Homo sapiens: one gene and its partners. The gene in region 1 interacts genetically with each later gene. Each region holds a gene or a part of one and is shown in the gene's direction. Other genes may lie near its edges.

What was found.
Region 2: changes in MED23 (region 1) and NDUFB1 together harm fitness more than expected from each alone (negative genetic interaction), as found in Homo sapiens cells (one large-scale study listed by BioGRID).
Region 3: changes in MED23 (region 1) and COX16 together harm fitness more than expected from each alone (negative genetic interaction), as found in Homo sapiens cells (one large-scale study listed by BioGRID).

Annotation. Positions count from the first base shown.
Region 1 is NC_000006.12:131,600,728-131,604,456, reverse strand, and holds part of MED23 (mediator of RNA polymerase II transcription subunit 23), read left to right. Parts: intron 1-136; coding exon 137-279; intron 280-1,252; coding exon 1,253-1,427; intron 1,428-2,075; coding exon 2,076-2,239; intron 2,240-3,729. UniProt on the Homo sapiens protein: Required for transcriptional activation subsequent to the assembly of the pre-initiation complex. Component of the Mediator complex, a coactivator involved in the regulated transcription of nearly all RNA polymerase II-dependent genes.
Region 2 is NC_000014.9:92,119,607-92,123,206, reverse strand, and holds the start of NDUFB1 (NADH dehydrogenase [ubiquinone] 1 beta subcomplex subunit 1), read left to right. Parts: upstream 1-1,500; 5' UTR 1,501-1,565; intron 1,566-1,807; exon of another isoform or gene 1,808-2,011; intron 2,012-3,600. UniProt on the Homo sapiens protein: Accessory subunit of the mitochondrial membrane respiratory chain NADH dehydrogenase (Complex I) that is believed not to be involved in catalysis. Complex I functions in the transfer of electrons from NADH to the respiratory chain.
Region 3 is NC_000014.9:70,324,949-70,328,777, reverse strand, and holds the end of COX16 (cytochrome c oxidase assembly protein COX16 homolog, mitochondrial isoform 1 precursor), read left to right. Parts: intron 1-2,328; coding exon 2,329-2,445; 3' UTR 2,446-3,697; downstream 3,698-3,829. Other genes in the region: SYNJ2BP-COX16 protein, read left to right, coding at 2,329-2,445.

The DNA of each region.
Region 1 (3,729 bases):
TTAAACACATTAAATGAATCAACTTCATTTGAATCATTTAAGTTCAGATTTATACTAAGTTACTTCTAAGTAGAGTAGCCCCTATGTTTATGTCAAAAATATGGATTTTTATTTTCTTCCCTTTTTTTCTCCTCAGCCTTATTCACAGCATTGCAACCAGGGTGATAAAACTTGCTCATGCAAAGTCCAGTGTGGCCTTGGCTCCAGCCCTAGTGGAAACTTACAGTCGTTTATTGGTCTATATGGAAATAGAGTCTTTGGGCATCAAAGGATTTATCAGTAAGACAGGACTTTCTGGTGTTTATAACTATTAACCCATTCATTAACTCTAAAGTTACTTTTCTAGGTCCTGGGGACACAGCAGAGAACAAGTCACCACCATGATGGAGCTTATGGAGGAGGACATTAAATAAATGAAATATACAATATGTCAGATGATACATGTTATAGAGAAAAATAAAGCAAAAAGGAATAGGAAGTGTGAGGGTTGGGGGGTTTGTTGCATTTTTAAGTAAAGTGGTAAGAAAAGGTTAATGTGCTAGGTGCCTGGGATGCAGTGAGCAGGATAGACCTGGTCCCTGTCCTCATGCAAATGGATTCTGCCTGAGGCAGCAATGCTGTCCTCCAGTGCATACGAAGTCTGACTGGAAATAAAGAAGGAATTTTCCTACCTTGCAGAAGATACATTATAATGTCTCATTTATTATATAGTTCTAAAATAATAGATACTTTCTGATATAGAAGTGTTTTTCTGATTCATGGTAATTCCAGCTTTTCACGAATACAGCATAGTCTTAATTTTAACCACAATAACTCTTCTTAGATAACTGATTGTTGAACAAAACTTTCTTGGGGGTAGGAGGAAACAAGGGCAGGTATAATACAATTTTTTGTATTAAAAAGTGAACCTCATACTTCAAAAGGTATGGAACATTAATTGTCTAAAAATAAAAGATATCAGAATTGAGAAGATTAATGTTTTTTCATATCTTGTCTCATTTTATTTTTCCAGATAAACATGATTATCAATTGCCAAATCCCAGGAAAAAAGCAAACTTGATATTATAGTTAGGATCTGAATTTTTCCTTACTGTTAAAGTAGAAAATAAGAAAATATGGAGAATATATATGTGTGTGGGCGTGTGTATTTTCACAATCAAATCTTTATATTTTACTCAATGTGACTTTCTTCAAATATCTTTTCATGCATAGCCTTTAATAATTGGTACCTTAAATTGTCTTTTTCCTCCAGGTCAGCTTTTGCCAACTGTTTTCAAATCACATGCATGGGGGATCTTACACACACTCCTTGAGATGTTTAGCTACCGGATGCATCATATTCAGCCTCATTACAGAGTTCAGCTCCTGAGTCATCTTCATACTTTGGCTGCAGTTGCACAAACAAACCAGAACCAGCTCCATCTTTGGTGAGCTCATTGAAGACCATCTTTCCTTAAGATTTATTAGAAACTTTCTTGGAGATGAGGTTCTTAATCCTTTACCTTTACCTTATAGTTTTTTTTTTTATTATTATTCATCTGTCATAAAACTTCTCTGCTTCTAAAGTATTTTGTTTCCAGTATAGGAGCAGAGTCCAGCTTTTTAAATAGAAACTGATTAAGATAGTTGAGTCCTTCCTTCAGGATCTTTGGACTGAGAATTAGTACTTCCAGGGTATTTATTATTATGTTGTAACTTAGCCCTTTAGAATGCTGGTTTTAAGTATACTTCAGATTATGGTTAAAGTATCATGTCACATTGATTTTGCTTTACATTAAAATATATTTTAGATAGAAAAATATAATTTTTGAAATGCAGTATCTCCAGGTGAAATTTTTTAGTCCTATAGGCGACAAGCCATCTTTTTCAAATGTGTAAAAAGTCACGATTTTCACTATAAAATTGGACACATTAGGTTTTTTAAACAAATTAAGCAACATTTATTCTCACACAAAAGTGTTTTTTTAAAGAAGGGATAGTCATAGATTGCATGTTTTTCCATTGTAATTAACCTTAGATTTAATTCCATAATTCTGAAATTTTTTTACATTTCTTTTTATTCTCCCAATTTTCAGTGTCGAGAGCACTGCTCTCAGGCTTATAACAGCATTAGGTAGCTCAGAGGTACAACCGCAGTTTACACGCTTCCTTAGTGATCCCAAAACAGTGCTCTCAGCAGAATCTGAAGAACTGAACCGAGCCTTGATATTGACCTTGGCTAGAGCAACTCATGTAACAGGTACGGTGAATATGTGACTACAAACAACAACAGATGAATTAAAGTGTGCCATGATTCTACTAATTACTATAGTTGTAACATACTAAAAAGATACTTTTCATTTGTTTGAAAAAAGCCTGTTGTTTTGATATCTTCACTATTTCACTCATTTATGGAAGCTCTTTTGTGTACCATCATTCTATTAATAACTGCGTTGAGCATCGTTTTCAGCTATCCATAATTTTAAAGTAGTAATACTTTAAGCTTTTTGGTCTCAGGACTGCTTTACACTCTTAAAAACAAAATTGAAATTCCCAAAGAGTTTCTGTTTATATGGATTATATCTATGGATATTTATTATATTAGATATTAAAATTAAGAAGTTTAAAAATATTTATTAATTTGTTTTTAAATAGCAATAATAAACATTACATGTTAATATATGATGTTATAAAAAAAGTATATTTTCTAAAGCAAAACTTTAGTGAGAAGAGGTGCCATTGTTTGACATTTTTGCTTCTCTAATATCTGGTGTAAAGGAAGACATAGTTTGGATTCTCATCTGCTTAGACATTTAATCCATTGAAGTTTTAGTTGAAGTAAGTGAAAAATGTGGCCTCACACAGATGAGGTTGGAAAGAGAGGAGTATTTTAATAGCTTTTTCAGATAATTGGGAATGTTCTTTGACATCACATGGAAAAATGATAGTTGCTTAAAGGTTAGCTGCAATATGGAATCCAAAACCCCCAGTAAACTTCATGTACTTTGTTACATTATAATCTGTACATCTGTTTTATACATTTAGTGGATTTTTAAATCCATGCATGTTTTGTAACTTCATGAATTATTCATTTTGAAAATACTGGTTCACTGAGTTACGTAGATCTAGCAAACGTTGACATTTTGTTTATACAGTATCAGAAAATTACATTTGTTAATATCACTGCAAAGTTTATTAGAAAAATCTAAGTTTTGGAATGCTATCATGTCGTGGTAGATACAGGTTTTCCAAAATTTCAATTTTTACTTGAAAGGTCAAATTTTATCATTGGAAAAAGTTACTATCATTTGTTTTCCTTAAAGTGACAAGCTCATTTTGTTAATTTTCAAGAAAATGTCTGCTAAATACGTAAGTCTAGCTAGCTATAGTTTTCTGTCAGACGTTCTTTCAAGTAAAATTGGAATTCAAAAAAAAAAAAGCAGCTGATTTAACTCAGTGCTCAGTCAGTCACACAAGTGCACAAGTGTTTTTCCTCAAGACACCCATCAAACTTGGAACACTAGGCATATGCTTCCCCTTTTGTTACATATGATGTTAAAAATAGGTGTCGAGATTGACACTGGCACTTTTCTTTCACTGAGTGCATGTGCTGGAGAATACAAAGCCTTTTCATCTAGTCTGGCACCACTGTTTGATTTGTGCTTAGGACCAGCAGTTTTACCACCATTGCTTTTGTACCGTCAGTGCTCATACCAAGTGAAAAAGCCTGATATCTTTTTATTATTATTT
Region 2 (3,600 bases), on another chromosome or scaffold:
CAGTGAGCCGAGAATCGTGCCACTGCACTCCAGCCTGGGCGACAGAGCGAGATTCCTTCTCAAAAATAAAAAATAATTACCGTGCATGTTGATGACAACTAAGGTGAACTAAGCAAAATCCAAGGGAAAACAGAGGAGTTTGGGTTAGCCCTGGAGCTCACTGAGTGGGGAAGGCTCTTCTCGGTCAGTTGAGGGAGAGCCCCAGTTTCATACTGGGGTTGCAAGGCCGGGCATGGTGGCTCACGCCTGGAATCCCAGCACAGGCCAAAATGGGAGGATCTCTTGAGCCCAGGAGTTCGACACCGGCCTGGGCAACATAGTGAAACCCCGTCTTTATTAAAAAAAAAAAAAAAGAAAGAAAAAAGAAAGGGGTTAAAGGGGTTGTAAAATTAAAAATTAGGGGATGGGTATAAATGATAGCTCAGGTTCGCCTGGTCACAGGAAGCCAGACTTGCCGGGGTTCAATCTGACCTCTTCTTTTCTAAAGAGCACGTAAAATAGTACGAAGTCAAAAAAGAATTAGAACTTCGCAGTGATAGTGGAAGCGCTGGAGGGCGATGGCGGGAGGGCGCGAAGGCCCAAGACCCTTTTAGTACAGTGTGGTACAAACAACCGAAAGGTCTCTGGAGTCGAAGAACTAAAAGGACGCCTAAGCGGTGTCCAGAGCTTAGCAACCTCGTGGTCTCTCAACCCAAAACGACGGGAAGAGCCCGAGCAGGGGAGGCTAAGAACGCCGTAGCCACGAAGCCAAGGAGCTAAAGCTGGCGTCGGTTTAACTCTTCCAGCGCCAAGAGATGAAAGGGGAAGCAGAGGGAAGCAGAAAGGAGGGAAGAAGATCCCGGGAGGGAACCGTACGGGCTGCCGCAAAACAGCTGGGAGCTTGAAACCCATGGAGAAGTCACTTCTCTTTCCCTCGCTGACCACTTCTGCCGGGAACGACCGGGACAGTCGCAGCCGAAGCGGCGGGGGCGAGTCCTCGGGGGAGACCGGGTCGGAGTCGGGGCCCCGTGCTCCCGGAGGGCCAATGACGCCGCCTTCCCCAGCCCGAGGCTCGCTCCTTTCTCCCGCCCTCACTTGCCTCGTCAGGCCTCCCCCAACGCCGTCCACAGCCCTTCCCAACCCCTAGGCGAATCCAGGTTCAAGACGTAGAAAAGCCGATGCTGGGTCAGCAGCGCCAGGGACTACCGGCCGGCAGAAGCCCCACAGTGGCAGCCGCCATTTTGGAGCTGGAGACTAGCGGCGGAGACGAGGAGGAACCAGGGCGAGACCATCTCCGGGGGGTGGGCACGGTGCTGTCGGAAGGCGACGGCGGTCACGCCTGCACGCCTCGTCTGTCTGGAGCGAAATTTTATTCAGAAATTATTGGTAATGTTTGGAAGCTAAAAAAAAAAAAAATGAGAGGAGTCAACCCTGAGGAGGAAAAAGTAGTATGATTTGCTGGCGTCACCCCTCTGCTCCGTGCGGGCGCGGCGAATGGCAGGTCCCGAGGTCGCAGCTTCCACTGGCGCGGGTTGAGTTCCCTGTTGCCCTTGGTCTCGGGGTCGCTGTAGGCGCTGAGGCTGCAGGTGGGTTTGGGGAGCCCGGGGGGCCGCCGCGACGAGGATCACGGCGACGGTGGCGGGGAGGGTTCTAGGCAAGCCCTCGGTGCTGTGCATGTGTGGAGGGGTGGTCTGGGCTTCCCCGGGGCTTCCGAACGAAGGTGACGGGAAAGGAAAATGGGGTTTTCTTCGGGTGGAGGATGGGATTTCCGGGCCGGAGCTTTTGGAAAGGGTTTTCTGAGGCTGTCATAACAGGAAAACGTCCGTAGAGATGTGACCCAGTGACCGCCCGCTAACCGGACTGGAGAGAAGACCGGCCCGGATCCCACGCCTGGCCTGAAGCAGGGAAGACGCTGCCTCCCCTCCGCGAGCAGCTTACATTCGTCCAAGTTCCAGCCTTCTGTCTTCTCGCTAACCTCGCTCTCTTCCAAATCGCAAATCCTCTTGAGCCGACACCGTTGCGCCTAAATGATGTGCTTACCCTTTTACTTTGCTTTTTTATTTTTGAGACAGAGATTCACTCTTGTCACCCAGGCTGGAGTGCAATGGTGCAATCTCGGCTCACTCCAACCTCCGCCTCCCGGGTTCAAGCGATTCTCCCGTCTCAGCAGCCCAAGTAGCTGGGATTACAGGCGCCCGCCACCACACCCGGCTAATTTTTTGTATATTTAGTAGAGACGAGGGTTTCACTATGTTGGCCAGGCTGGTCTCGAACTCCTGATCTCGTGATCCACCCGCCTCAGCATCCCAAAGTGCTGGGATTACAGGCGTGAGCCACTGCACCTGGCCCACCTTGCCTTTTAAAAGACAAAAGTATGGCCAGGCTTAGTGGCTCACGCCTGTAATCCCAACACTTTGGAAGGCCGAGGTGGCCGGATCAAGAGGTCAGGAGTTTGAGACCAGCCCGGCCAACAGTGAAACCCCATCTCTACTTAAAAATACAAAAATTAGCCGGGCGTGGTGGCACCTGCCTATAGTCCCAGCTACTCGGAAGGCTGAGGCAAGAAAATCACTTGAACGGCCGGGCGCGGTGGCTCACGCCTGTAATCCCAGCACTTTGGGAGGCCTAGGCGGGCGGACCACCTGAGGTTGGGAATTCAAGACCAGCCTGACCAACATGGAGAAACCTCGTCTCTACCAAAAATACAAAATTAGCTGGGCATGGTGGCGCATACCTGTAATCCCAGCTACTTGGGAGGCTGAGGTAGGAGAATCCCTTGAATCCGAGAGGCAGAGGTTGCTGTGAGCCAAGATTGCGCCATTGCACTCCGGCCTAGGCAACAAGAGCGAAACTTCGTCTCAAAATAAAAAAAAAAAAAGGAAAGAAAAAAGTATGAATTGTATAAGCATGCCAGTGTAAGAGGAGAGGCAGAAATTCAGTCTACATAGTCCTAGCACAGCTTAGTGCTAAGCACTTTTGTTGGCAATAATGTATTGTCTTTCTAGGATGTTGTCATATGTCTTCTTAGTCATTGTACATGATTTATTAGTTTAGTCCAAACGCACACAGGTGTATTTTGAATTCATCTGTATGCACGAATTTTTACAGAAAATTGGCAATCCAACTATGTTTTTATTGAATTGTGCAATTTATTTTCCACATGATGTCTATTACAGGTTCAGTATCCCTGATCAGAATGTTGGAAATCCAAAATGCCCCCATATGTGAAACTTGGGGCCACAAGTTTGAGACCAGCCTGGGCAACATAGCAAGATCTTGTCTCTACAAAAAAAAATGTTTAAAGAATTTTTTTAAATTAGCACCCGTAGCTCCAGCTTCTCAGAAGATTGAGGTGGGAAGATCACTTGAGCTCAGGAGTTCAAGACTGCAGTGGACTATTATAACTCCACTGCACTCCATCCTAGGTGACAGAGCGAGACTATTTAAAAAAAAAAAAAAGTTTCATATAAGATTACCTTCAGGCTATGTGTATAAGGTATATATAAAACACAAATGAATTTTATGTTTTAATTCGGTCCTATCCCCAAGATAGCTCATTATGTGCATGCAAATATTTCAAAATCAAAAAATCGAAAACACTTCGGGTCCCAAGCATTTCGG
Region 3 (3,829 bases), on another chromosome or scaffold:
AATCCTACAGATATAGTTTAATCTTATCATGGCACATTAATTTACTTAAATATGAAGACCATCTCCAAATCAATGTGAAAAAGTTCAACAATTCATTTGTTCAGTAAGAACATGGGAAAGCATAGCATGTAAAACTTTTGGACAAAAGGAAATAAGTATCATTCTTAAACATATGAAGAGATGCTCAATTTATCATAATAGGAATGTCAAAGTCTAACGAGGTATCACTTTTCACCCATCTAATTAGCAAAAATCAAGGAGTTTAACAGCACGCTATATTATGGGATGTGGTGAGGATGTTCTTCATGTCTTTGAGTTTGTCATTTTTTTGACTGGATTATATTTTCCTGTTTCTTTGTATATGTCTGGTCATTTTGTATTGAAAGGTAGTCATTGTGAATAATACACTGAAGAAAATTCTGAAGAGTGTTGATTTTTATTTTGACAATTTAATTGTTAGCTAATCACCTTAAACTTCATTTTGTGCTTTGTAGGGAAGTATCTGTTGAAGGGCTAGCTATCTTTCCTTGGCCCTTCTCCCTTGTTGGGACTCAATCTCCAGACTATCTCCCCAGAGAATCTTGTCAAGGCTTGGCTTTAAGCTTTGTTGGGGTGAGTCTAAAGAAAATCTTATCGCGCCACTGCACTCCAGCCTGGGTGACAGAACGAGACTCCGTCTCAAAAAAAAAAAAAAAAAAAAAAAAATCTTATTCTCAGGCATAATTTTTACTCCTGAAGAACAGTCCTTTTGGTGTCTTAGGTGGATGTCAGGGTAGCAACAAAATGTTAAAAGAAAGGTCTCCACTCTGGCAGGCCTGGAAACTCCATATTCTTGACACTGTTTTTTCTCAGCATTTCTTGACGCTGTTCCACACTCAGGCCTATACCAGTTGGCTGTGAAGTGTTATGTCTTGGGTGGTTTTTCTCAGCACATTTACATAGCCCATTCTTCAGCCACTGTGCACGTTTTGTAGAATTCTACAAGGAATCTCCTTCACCAAAGATCTGTAAAGGCTAGACTACTTTTACATGAACTTGTTATTTAAGAATTTTCTTCAGTTCTGTTAAGCATACATATCTTACGTTACCTGGATAATGGCCATTATTCTTTATTAAAATCTTTTAATAACTTTAGATCATTTCATAACTATACTTATGAAATAATCTAAATTCTTCTTGTATGCTAAATTAGTTGAATTTTGTTCCTTCATGTATATATGTAATACAGACTCCTGGTAAAACTATAAGTGAACAGTATTTTCATTTACTACTTTCCCATTGATTAAAAAAAAAAATCCTGTAACTTGCTAACTTGTAGTTCTACAAGTGCTATACCAGTAATGATGCTATGAAGAGTTTGTCTGGGAGTAGATTTTCCTTCTAGTTCTTCTAGGACCTGTAGAATTTGAGAGCTGAAGACTCTCAAATGTAGAGTATTTGGTCCAACCTTTTCATTGTTACTTATGAGAGAGTTAATGCCCAGGTGGCTTAAATTACTTTCCAAAGGTTATATAGCTAGTTAGTAAGAGAGTAATGCTTAGTATCCAAGTGTCAAGGTAAATTTATTCCATTTTCCCTGTCTCTGGATATAAGCTATCCTATGTTTTCACAGCTTTTTTTTTCCATCTTACTCAATTATTTCAGAACAACCAAAACAGCAGATATGTAAAAGTTAATGTCAGAGTGGTGGTCAGTAGGAGAAAGGTGAAGAAACATTTATTTCTTCCCTTTTATTCCAACTATTTTTGTGCTTGAGAGGTACTTCAGACTAAATGAAGGTAGGATGATCCATAATGTAGTTGCAGTTAGTTTCAGTTGCCCAAAAGTGTTTTGCTTATGATAGATAGCTGTAGGAAAGTCTTTTCATTCCTAAGCCCAGGCGTAAGACAAATGATCTTGGTCTCTTTTCTTTTTTGTAGAAGACTTTAGGGTCTCCACCCTTTGTTCTTTTCTTCTTATTTTCTACCATCATCCCTGATAACCCTTTCAGTCACTGTGCTGGATCAGCCTTCAGATTTGTACTTTTGTTTTCCCAGCTTCAGCCTTTTCCTTGTCCTCTCAAAAATAAGGCATGTAGACTCTTTCTCTATTTTAATAGTTTTACGGTTAAGGTGGCGTAAGATAGGCATTAACATCAGTAACAAATGAAAAGTTCTAAATCTTAAGATGACATTTCATCAATGATTGTAGTTGATTTATTTGCTACAGTTGTAATCGAGGACCTATCGGATACTTTCTACTCATTTATTCATTGAGTTAGTTGTGTCCTAATCAAAGCCACAGGCTCTTATACTAATATTTATACTTTAATTTTTTGTGGTTCTATAGAAAATCAAAGACTCCAAGTTTGATGACTGGAAGAATATTCGAGGACCCAGGCCTTGGGAAGATCCTGACCTCCTCCAAGGAAGAAATCCAGAAAGCCTTAAGACTAAGACAACTTGACTCTGCTGATTCTTTTTTCCTTTTTTTTTTTTTTAAATAAAAATATTATTAACTGGACTTCCTAATATATACTTCTATCAAGTGGAAAGGAAATTCCAGGCCCATGGAAACTTGGATATGGGTAATTTGATGACAAATAATCTTCACTAAAGGTCATGTACAGGTTTTTATACTTCCCAGCTATTCCATCTGTGGATGAAAGTAACAATGTTGGCCACGTATATTTTACACCTCGAAATAAAAAATGTGAATACTGCTCCAAAAACAGAGTCACGTATTCCACTCTCCAACTACCCACATATTCCTTTTGCAATAGCCATTAGGGCATCATTTTGATATTTCATTCTGATTTCTGATTCTCTGATTTCTGATTCCTAATGAGGACAGTAGGTCTGGATCCAAATTCTCACAGTAAAATCAAGCAGTAATTTTCTCTCATATCTATTAGGGAAAGAAAAATGATCACAGTCTGCTAAGAGTCTTGATTTTCTTTGTAATGCCTCACATAGTATGATAATCAGTCTCCAAAGCATCACATGATAATTACAATGATACCATTAACATGTCAAGGAAATTATATTATTTATGGTTGTCAAAAATTATGAAGTAGTGTATGATTATAAGCAGATATGGCAAATTTGTTCAGTAAATCCATAGATGACTACATTTTGAGAAATACTAAGATAATACTAAAAATTATGCCTTAGCATAATTTGCATGCAAAATTGCCCTCTAGTGTTTTTGTTTTGTTTTGAGACATAGTCTCGCTCTGTTCGCCCAGGCTGGAGTGCAGGGGCACGATCTCTGCTCACTGCAAGCTCTGCTTCCCGGGTTCACACCATTCTCCTGCCTCAGCATCCTGAGTAGCTGGGACTACAGGCACATGCTGTCACACCCGGCTAATTTTTTGTATTTAGTAGAGATGGGGTTTCACCACGTTAGCCAGGATGGTCTCCATCTCCTGACCTTGTGATCCGCCCACCTCGGCCTCACAAATTGCTGGGATTACAGGTGTGAGCCACCACGCCTGGCCGAAAGTTAGTTGTTTTGAACTCATTTTCTCCTTTTTACCCCTGCCTTTATCAGCTTCTACCTTCTGGTTTCATGCTGAGTTCTAGTTGCCTAAAGTCTCCATTGAAACACTCCTGTTATAATTGCCATAAAATCATAAATCCACTCCCCCTTTCTCCTCCTAGTCAAAATTTGTATTCTTTTCAGCAGGTTGGTTTTAATAAAAAGTAAATTAAGTTGATTATCTAGTGATAATTTGTGATAGACATGATTCATAAGATAGTTATCTGGGGGAGCAATTGGATTTCAGAGAAAAAAAGTCTCCACTTATTATTCACTCATTAAACAAGTAACTCAAAAAAGGATCATTGAT